Regions from separate parts of the Homo sapiens genome. Here region 1 is linked to region 2. Evidence: fine-mapped expression QTL. A gene starts in region 2. The other region holds a variant in brackets. All regions are shown on one strand. Distances are from middle to middle. Region 1 overlaps PNPLA4 (patatin like domain 4, phospholipase and triacylglycerol lipase). Region 2 holds the start of PNPLA4 (patatin like domain 4, phospholipase and triacylglycerol lipase).

What was found. PIP is the estimated chance that this variant, and not a neighbour inherited with it, causes the effect. A credible set is the group of variants that fine-mapping cannot tell apart.
Region 1: its variant is the best candidate, but not a certain one, in a credible set for the expression of PNPLA4 in whole blood (TOPMed, PIP 0.77).

Annotation. Positions count from the first base shown.
Region 1 is chrX:7,895,985-7,901,350 of GRCh38, forward strand. PNPLA4 (patatin like domain 4, phospholipase and triacylglycerol lipase) reads right to left here. Exons shown (of 7, transcript NM_004650.3): 7 at 2,263-4,833. The coding sequence ends at 4,702. Among named protein-coding and RNA genes, the nearest start is that of PNPLA4, 29 kb to the right of the region's middle. The variant G/A (reference allele first, on the strand shown) is at 3,288.
Region 2 is chrX:7,925,378-7,930,719 of GRCh38, forward strand. PNPLA4 (patatin like domain 4, phospholipase and triacylglycerol lipase) reads right to left here and starts at 2,036. Exons shown (of 7, transcript NM_004650.3): 1 at 1,909-2,036; 2 at 563-755. The coding sequence starts at 742. It overlaps LOC107985675 (a long non-coding RNA gene), which reads left to right and starts at 2,123. Exons shown (of 5, transcript XR_001755784.2): 1 at 2,123-4,036. RefSeq lists a silencer at 471-765 and enhancers at 742-791, 1,454-1,683, 1,914-2,153, 2,174-2,223, 2,564-2,643.

The DNA.
Region 1 (5,366 bases), 29 kb before region 2:
CCTGGCTGTGTTAAGTCACACAGAGCAGGTACTGGAAGGATATGATATGAACAGTTCCTACTATTGGCAGCTGGTAGGAGAACAGGCTTCTAAAACTCAGCTACTTGGCATCAGGTTGGCCATCCTAGGTCACTGTGGCTGCCACTGTTTCTGAGGTGACATTGACTTTCCTCAATCATTCTCTATTCCAGGTGGCTTCCTTTTCAGGCACAGGTCAGGTGATCAGAGTCCATTTTCCAGTGACATGACTCAAACCTTAGGTCCTCAGGGATGTGTACCCTTGCTTCTGCCATATAAGGTTGCAATGGCTTCCCACTAACTATTCCACTAGTGCTGGTTGTAGACTGGATAACCGGAGGGGTTACCCCAATTTCATGCTCATTCCTCCCTATCCCCATCATATGGCAGCAAATCCATCTCCCCTTGACAAGTACAATAAGATCATCCATTACCATGATTCTGTTCAGCCAGTAGGAGGAGGAACCAGAAATGGCAAAATAGAACAGATCATTTCCCTCACTGGGAGTGATTGGCGCTAGTAACCCCCTTGGATTTGAAATTGTCAAGAGATAGTTCTGACTGAGGTTGATCAGTAGAGCTAAATTGCCTAGTTCCATGACCTTGCCAGGAACCAAGTTTTGGGGTTGATGTGTCCACAGTGTCAATAAGCCCAGTGATCACCCCTTCGACCATTTTACCTTCTTCCTGGAGTAACTTCAGGATTTGAACATGTGTCATCCTGAGCCTTTCCTCCAGGGGGTCCTCTTGTGAGTGGTGGGTGTCCAGGTGAGTGGTGGGTGAGGGGTAATAGTGAAGTCCCTGTCTTGGCTAGCAACAGACACCAGCACATCTCGCTGTTGGACAAAAGGAGAAGCAGCCACCGTAAATCTTCCTCAAGCTTCCTGGCCCTTTCACATTGCTTGTGTGGCCTGAATTATCTCACATGATTGTTTTCTTAGTTGCTCAGGTGAGCTCCGTGAAGGGAGGGATCCACAAAAGTGCCCAGTAGACTTTTGCACGGCCCAAGTCCAATCTTGCAAGGGACAGTTTATGAATCAGGGACCCACCTGCAGGGCCATGAGCTTGGCCATAGCTGGAAGGTCATGTTGCAAAGCCATTGAGCCCATCAAGGGAGGGCTGATATTCTTGGACTGGCTGGAACTGTGGGGCTTTCCAAGAGTAGAGTACGCATATGCACTTTACTAGGTCTGTCCACAAAAGTGAATCTGACTATATAAAGGTTAAAGAGCACTTATAAACTCAGTGAAATCGGGCATTACATAAATGCTGCTTCATCTCGGCACAGTTAAAATGCAGCTGCTGTGACATGTTTTAGGTATGTGTATATGTACATACATATATATGTGCAAGTATGTTTGTTCATATTCATGTTTTTCACAAATTATCTTATTTCAAGATTAAGTTGGATGTGATATTATGACTTGTACATGACTGTGTACTCAGACATGCATTCTAAAGTATGAATAAAGTTAAATCATATTTCTCCCCTCTAAGTCAGTCAAAATGGGGAAATTATACTGAGTTAGGGGATATGTGTGAGGAAAAATAAACATGTGTGTTAGCATTAAGTAAGCAGAGCTTTGAGTTGTGCAGTTAGAAAAAAATTGAAGTGCAGAACTAAGCAAATAAATGGTGAATTCTGCCCAAAGAAACTGTCAATTTGCAAATCAGAATCATGATAGCTGTCTAAAAATCTGTCCACTTTACATGAACTGCAATAACTGCCTTCCTTCCTACTTTATTTAGATAATTACTTCAACTTCTGATTTTATTTTGCTATCACGTAGACAAAATTTAGGCAAGAAAAATCCCAAAACACTGATCTTCCATAGTTAGGCTCCTCAATTGTAAAAGTAATAGACTGGATCCAAAAACTTTCTACGACTAATATTTATAAACATGTTTTTATGTAATTGTATTTATCTTTTTTAATCTTCCAAAAAATTAAAAGCATAATCACTAATATCTGTGTATTTTGAGTGCTCATGCTTGTTTAGAATCAAAATTCAATGCCCAGAGTGGTGAGACTGTATCTTTGCAAGCTTCTAGTATACACACCCTGCACCTGATATTAAGAACCCAGAATTAACAGTTTTTTTTTCTTTCTTACTTTTTAATATATGGCTTGTTCCTTTAGAGCACTATTGAACTTCAAAACCAAACCTATTTTCTCTAATTGTCAATGGAAGCACTGGGTTACCATAGTTACATAGTAAAGTGTCTTATTGAAAAGAAGAAAAGGAAGACTAATGACATTTTTAATGACAGATTCAAATATATAAGGAAATTGCCCCCACAGGGAATTGGGAATTTATCAAGCTGCCAATCACAGTAATTACCCTGCAAACATATCAGTATCTGGGTCAGAAACTCCTTTCAGATTTTCTATATGCCAGTTCTACAATGCCTCAAAATTTTGATCCCACAAGTGAGGCAGATCCTGTTGTGAATGCCTGTTTTCAATTAGTATGGCTGCATGAGCACACACTCCAGCAAAGGTAAGCAGAGCATGCTTGGTAGCATGCTCACAGGAGAATTTGGTGCACCAGCCCCGGAGAGCGCCTAGTGTGCACCAAGTATGTGTTTCATTACACCGCTGTATTCCCCTCATGTAGGAAAGTTGCTGCAGACTGATACGTCAATGATCTTACAGTATTTTTAAAGAAAAGTACCAACACCTGGGTGATAAATTAATCTTTACAACAAACCCCCGTGACACAAGTTTACCTATAACAAACCTGTACACGTACCCCTGAACTTAAAATAAAAGTTAAAAAGAAAAGTACCATCCTCCCACAGGGTCAAATACATATGTAGTCGATACAAGATACTTCAAAAAAGTCTTATACAATGAGATTTGGTTTTGCAGCTTAAATTTCTTCAATTTAAGGGTACATCAACAAGGAATTTATTGAAATACAGTGTATCATACAAATAGAATATTCACATGAAATGATCAAAGGAAGGGGTAAGGAGAAAAGTATTAAAACTGAAAATTTACCTAGTGAATAAGTGGACATAACAATTGAGAATCTATCCACTTCATGTCACTTATGGAAACAACACATTAAGATTAAACTACATGTTTGCTAGAGTAGGAGAAAGTATATACCACAGGGACCATCATTACTCTAGAGTGGGTCTATGCATAACTCCTCAAAAAGAGGCCATCGTTGGTGTTTATGTGCTAAAAGTTGTGTATTTTGGCTTCTGAGAACCATAAAATTGACTCAAAGAATAGTTTCAAAGAGTAAAAGAAGAAATGC[G/A]TGACAATTGAAGACATGGAATTAAATTGGTTTGTCTCTAACTGCCTCTTAGTAATCAAGAGTTCTTGCTTGGCAAAACCTCATAAAAACAGATTTAGGATTTAAGACAGTGTCAGTAAATTGGTACAAGCCCATACACAAGTCCTCAAAGTGATGGACAACTACTCAGAAAGTAAAAAACCTGGGATCAGTACAACGTGATTTAAAAATGAGAAGTGAATGATTATTCTGGATTTAATTCTTATTTACTAGGCTACTTGGTTCTTTGTGTTTAGTAGTATTTTATCTATTTAAGTTCCCATAATAGATGTATCCAGTATATAGAACAATAGCTAAATACTCAGAGAGGTATGGCGAGAGAGAGAGAGAGAGAGAGAGAGAGAGAGAGAGAGAGAGAGAGAGAGAGAGAATGAATGACAACCAGCTTGATAATCTCCTAAACTGGGGTGGGGTTTAGGGGAGGAAGATGAGAGGGGATAAGCCTCTTCAAAATCTCCTAGGCTTCTGGATATCTGCCCCTAACTGCACTGGGAGCAACTGCACACACCTGTGGAAAGCAAACTGTTATGGTTTGGCTGTGTCCCCACCCAAATCTCATCTTGAAGTGTATGTAGCTCCCACAATTGCCACACGTTGTGGGAGGGACCCAGTGGGAGGTAACTGAATCATGGAGGCAGGTCTTTCCCATGCTATTCTCATGATAGTGAACGAGTCTCAAGAGATCCGATGGTTTTATAAAGGGGAGTTTCCCTGCACAAGTTTTCTTCTCTTGTCTGCTGCCATGTGAGACATGCCTTTCACCTTCCACCACAATTGTGAGGCCTCCTCAGTCATGTGGAACTGTGAGCCCATTAAACCTTTCTTTTGTAAATTGCCCAGTCTTGGGTATGTCTTTCTCAGCAGTGTGAAAATGGACTAATACACAAACCTTTGTTCCTCCAGTCCTGATCAAAGGTCTTTAACCATGAGTTGCCTATTTCTCAAATCCTTCCTCTCCTACCTAGTTCCTTCAGTTCCAGAGCTACAGGGACACAGCTAAGTCACGGAAACACCCATGCTTCACGTCAAGATCATGCCACATATTCTCCATGGAACCTAAGTGGTGGCCCTCCATTTTCCATGTTCCTCAATTTACCCAAAGAACCTATCCTCCTCCATTTTTTAAAGGACACAACAGTTCACCAAAAATGATTCCTTATCACCTAAGTGTATCCTTCTTAATGACGTTGTCAAATTCTAATAAAGTGCCTCTTATATCCATGTGCTAAGTAATAATTCAAATATTAAAAATAAACACAAATATTACAAGGAGTAATACAATTGAGTCATGATAGATTTTCTAAAAAGGATTTGATTAGAAACTTCCATCAAAAACTATCTAAAACGTGTTTTGCATTATAAACTTTTATGCATTTTATTCAAACCAATTTTCTTTAAGTAAAAACTTAACAGTGTCATCAAAACCACACTGATACAAAGATTCCATTTTCCTCTTGCTTGGGGGAAAAAGGGCTTGGTTGAGTCTCACCAGGTTTGCCAGGGACAACTAGAATAAAAAGACCAAAATTTAAGCTGTAGGATATTGCAGTACAGGTAAATATACACTATTTTTATAATCTAGGTTTTCTTATCACAGATACAATTAGCAGTAACAAAAAATCAGTAGGAAAAATTTAAACTTCAGAAGTTACCTCCACTGATACACTAAAGGAGAGTTTCTCAGCCTTGGTACTGCTGACATTTGGGGCCACGACGTCTTAACTGTGGGACAGTCATGTGCACTGCAGGACGTTTAACACCATTCCTGGCCTCTACCCACCAGATGCCAGTAGCACCACTGGGACATGATAACCAAAAATGTCTAGTACAATATCATCCCATGTGGAAAACTATTAGACTAGATTAAGGGAATCAGTATTTTTATGTCAATTATTCATTTGGGTCCCTAAGTTTTTCTCCACTATTTTTATATATTTCATTACCTCCATCTTTCTAAGCAAATAAATGATTTTATTTAAAATTGCTCTGGGCCAGGCGTGGTGGCTGAGGCCTGTAATCCCAGCACTTTGAGAGGCCGAG
Region 2 (5,342 bases):
AGATTTTAAAACATAGATTGCATTAAATAAAGTACTTAATGAATAATTATTTGTATTACTTCTGGATAAATTGCTTGGAACTCAGAGCTTCCTCTTACTGTGAGAATTAAAAAAGAATTAAATTCCTATACCATTCCACTTAATAGAAACTGCATGCCCACATTTTAATTTATGTATCTATTTCTAAGTAGCAGTGAGGTAAGACTTGTTGCCCACATGTTCAAGGCCTTGAAAACAGGCCCCATGCTCTTCTCATGATCATAGAAAGAAGAAATATCCTTTGCTTGAAAGGAACAGAGCTGGAATCTTAAGGATAAATAAAAACTCAAGAGTAATATAAGTCATTTTATTTCCTTATTTCACTATCACCCAAAATAATCTTTTCCACAACCAGAGCACAGATCCCTAATAATTACATCTTAAGAGAAAAGTCCTAATCCTTTCTGTTTCCAAGCAAACGATTATTTCTCTGCAGTGTTAACTTAGTAGAGTCAATGCTGGTGTTTGCCTTTGGGTCTTAATTTCTTGATGAGGAACACAGCCTAAGTTACTACTTAATTACCTCTATTTTTTCTGGTGCTGTTAGCAGAACAGAAGCAACCAACGATCCCGCAGACGCCCCAGCGAAGGCTTTGACATCCTTCACAAGTTTTTTGCCATGTCTGCAAAGTGCAGATGCTGCCCCCAAGTGGTAAATGCCCAGAAATCCACACGCTGCAAATGATAGGTTGATGTGCTTCATTCTAGCTGTAGCACTGGCAATACAAAAAACAAAAATGCTGTAAGTTGGAATAGTTTATCCCACATACTGTGTAGTCTTATGTTGATCATCGTTCCAAGGCTTTCTTCTAACATCATTCTCTGTTTTAAGCACAGTGGTTTCAATTAATTCTAATTAAACACAAGAATCTTTCAAGGAAACCCTTTCTTTCCCTCCTCACCTTGACCCAAGTCTTATACATTAAAACAAAACAAAACAAAAACATTCCACATTTATTCGGTACATAGATTATGAATCTACGATTTAATTACTTGGCAGGAAACAGACGTATAAATTCCAGTTGACAAGGGCATTTGGTCTTTTCTCTTGACCCTTTGAAACGTTTTGCGGGTGGGGGCGGCACTACCATTATGAAACAGAAAATTATTAGAGACCGTATCAAATTCCAAATGAACAATACATTTGTTCTTGGTAAGTGTATCAGAAGATTTCAAATACAGTTCCCTACTCCCCTTCCCAATTTCTATTGTGAGCACCCATGCTTTTATGAACGCCAATACAATTACTCAGTAACGCAATAAGCAATCACTCAACAATGCAATACATTTCTTTGCCAAGTATCTCAACACAAACTGAGGTCATGCCTGGTGAAGGCAATTTAAGGCTCTATGAAATGTCAGCCACGCCACTTTATACTTGGAACACATCTAAATACAAAATTACATGTTTTCCTATGCCTCAGTGCGCACAATTTGCCCAAGTGAATGAAATTGTGCCTCCACAAGGCTGTCCATTCTGAAGGTCTCAGGGTTTCCTTGGGGGCCCAAGGGCCCCATTCAGGGACCCCAAGATGAGGCACATTACAGGGCCTCGAATTTAGGGACCTAAGACCGCCTGTTCCTGATGCACCCGGCCAGGCCCTGTGAGGGCAGGTGGCTCGGCCGCCGCAGGCTGCGCTGGCGTCCGCGTAGGCTGAGTCCCAGTCATCGATCCGGGGTCAAGCCCCAGTTTTGATTCCACTTCTGCAAATGGGGACGGGAAGGGGGTTGGGTGTGTAGCAACCAGGCGGCCAGGCCCAGCCAGCACAGGCTCAGTGCCCTCCCGCGGCTTGGAGGCCGGCAGGGCCGGGGTGGTCCCCGCATCAGTCCCGCAGGAGCACACCCTTGCTGGGCCCCAGGGCTCCGTACCAATGCAGCCCCGGGACACTTCCGTGTTGAACGAGTCCCTTTAACCAGATGGCGGGGCCGGGCCGTCACTCAACGCCATTCCGCCACCAAGGCCGCGCTACGCTCTCCGCGAGCCGGCCCAGGAAAGTCCTGCGGCAGGGGTTGGTACCGCCTCCCGCGCAGGTATGTGACGTCATCGCGCCGACGAAGGCGCCCGCTAGGCCCCGCCTGCTCTATTTAAACTTCTGGACTCAACCTGGCCGCTAGACCGGAGCGTCCTCCAGCGCAGGCAAGGATTCCTCGTTTAGAGTCATGTTATCTTCGAGTACCTAGAGAGACATTTTAACCCACACCCTAGAGAGGCGTTGTAATCCTTACGTGTCTTTTAACGCTACTTGGCCCTTACCTGCGAGCAACTGACCTTTAATAATCCTCATTTTCTGTGCCCCGGAAGTGCCTTACCCTCTTCGCGTCTGTTTCCCGGAAGTGGTTCTTCTCCCTCTCCACCCTTTCGCCCGCCTGGGCGGTCCAGCTGCCCCTAGGGGCCAACTCCAGCGGCTATTTTGGGGCTGGACATCCCGCAGCTTTTCAAGGCGTGCCTTTGGTTTTTTTAAGAAGTGCTATCTAAAGGAAAAGCTGGACTATGACTCTGGGGAACTTTCATATCCTCAGTTGACCTTAGGCTGTGTGACCTTGAGCAGGTAGCATAACCTCTCTGAGTTTCCCGCGTGCCTTATGTGCAGATTGAGATGCTAAAATGAGAGAGCTAAATTGGAAAGCTTTTTCCACATAGGGGGCCGTGAGCAGGTGGCTGTTTTGTCCTCTGGCACCTTTGGCTCAGACTTAAGCAGCTTCAACGACCGCCAAGATGCCTGCCATGCCCACCAAGATTTAAAGGACTCTGATAATTCTTTCTCTCCCCAAACGGTGTTTTCCTTATCTAATCCTAATAACCAAGCCTGGAGGAATCCCTGACTTCGTGATTGAAGGCTCTCCAGGTCCCCTAGTTTAAGGGCAGAGATTTACTTTCTCTGAGGCTACAAAGGAGCGTCTGCGAGAATGTCTCTACCTTAGACAAAACAGGGAGGAGGGGTGGAGCTCTCCAAATTGCCTCTGGTTTGGGCTTTTTCTTTCTGTTTTGGTGTATCGTCTCTGGCCAACAACACCTGTGAGTCCTTGATGTGACGATTAGGGAAGATGTTTTTAATTCACATAACTATTCTTTAGAGAAAATTGATCCTGAAACACCTTATTGCCTTATCGTAGAATGACTGCATTACTCAGAATTCTTTACCTCTACCGGAATTTAGTGAAGGGAAGGCACAACGTACATTAGGAAAATACAGGACACACTCCAGTCCTTAAACCTTCCACAATCTTCTAGCTCTTTAAGGTCGAGTGTGATCCTCCCCAGAACTGCATCTTCCAGGAAGCTCATGAGAAAGGAAGGATCCCAGGTCCCATCTCTGATCTGAGTCGGCATCTGCGTTTTAACAGAATCCTGAAGCAGTGGTCTAACTCCTTTGGTGGTGTTATTGTTTGCATGTATACCTCCAAAATTCACATATTGAAATACTAACCCCCAAGGTGATAGTATTAGGAGGTGGGGCCTTTGGGAGGTAATTAAGTCATGAGGGTGAAGCCCTCATGAATGGGATTAGTACTCTTAGAAAAGGGACCCCAGAGAGGTCTCTTTCCACCATGTAAGGATAAAAGTACACGGAGAAGATGGCAATCTGCAAACTGGAAAAGGGCCCTCCTCAGAACCTGACCATCTTGGCACCTTGATCTCAGACTTCCATCTTCCAGAACTGTGAGAAATAAATTTCTTTTATAAACACTCAGTCAATGCTACTTTATTATAGCAGCCTGAATGGATTAAGACAGGTGGTCTGGTTTAAAGTGATGTGGTGGCATCAGAAGTTTAAGGAGAGACTGGATTTACAGAACCAGAATCTGGGATGCTGTTTACAGAGCAAGTTATTTCCTGCATTTGGACACTGTCAGCAGGTCGATTCAGGAGACAGGTGAAAACTTTATCACCGGGCAGCCTGGATGAACACCACAACTTTGATATCTTTCACTTAAAGGAAAGATAAGGGCATCCACTATTTCTACACCTGGCTGGCAGAGTGAGAGCTCACCAAAGGTAAGTCTCTTTGGAGCAGCAAAATGCTCCATAATTTAACTCTTAAAATTTTAAATTTATTTCCTCCTTACTCCCTTCAATCCCGTATCATATCTCCATGTAACTAGTTAAAAGTTCAGCTCTCAGCTGGGTGAGGTGGCATGTGCCTGTAGTCTCAGCCACTCAGGAAGCTGAGGTGGGAGGATTGCTTGAACCTAGGAGTTCATCTTCAGCCAGAGCAATGTAGTGAGACCTCATCTCTAAAGAAAAAACAAAAAACAAAAAAAGTTCAGCTTTCTAATGTAAGGAAGGATATATTCATTCACATTTGTCTTTGTCATCTCATCGCCAAGCTTAGCACTTGGCCCATAGTATATGATCAATAAATATTTGTTTTGGATGTTGGATTTATGTAAATTACCATTGTGATCTGAATATATAGTAATTTAATTGCTCTTTGAAACTTTTTTTTCTGTAATTAATTTGCTTATTTTTGCTCGTCTATTTTCCTTAGTAATTTAGTTTCAAACGGGTTTGTTTATTTAGCCATTTACGTAATTATTAATCATCTGTTGTATAGCAAGTGTTACGTTGGTACAGGGCATACACAGTTGAAAGAATTCAGCCCTTATCAGGGATGCAGAGTCCAGTGGATAGGGAGACATCTGATGTGTAATTACAGAGGCGTGATGATGTGGTATTGCAAAGCCATGCACAGATGCCCTGGTTGTGCACACCAGCTACGGAGTAGGAAACCTTTAGCTTCGGGAGGTGCCTACAGTAGCACCCAGCACAGAAACAAAATGCCCCAGCTTGATGGCTCCTTTTCCTCTCCAGTGCTTCCTCTCAGGAGATTTTATCCTGTATCCCATAAGGGAGGAGAAATGGACATGGGTAAGTGTTGCTTGTCCACACCTCTGCTCCAGGGAAAGGACCATATCTCAGAATCTTTGAGTCTAATCAGTTCTTTCAGTCTACTCTCCTTGTGGTGTTATTTCATTTTCCAGTCTTGGCATTTTTTTTTTTTTTTTGAGACAGAGTTTTGCTCTTGTTGCCCAGGCTAGAGTGCAATGGCGCCATCTCAGCTCACCGCAACCTCCGCCTCCCGGGTTTAAGCGATTCTCCTGCCTCAGCCTCCCGAGTAGCTGGGATTACAGGCATGTGCCACCACGCCCTGCTAATTTTGTATTTTTAATAGAGACGGGGTTTCTCCATGTTGGTCAGGCTGGTCTCGAACTTCTGACCTCAGGTGATCTGCCCGCCTCGGCCTCCCAAAGTGTTGGAATTACAGGCGTGAGCCACTGTGCCCGGCAGGCATCTTAACACC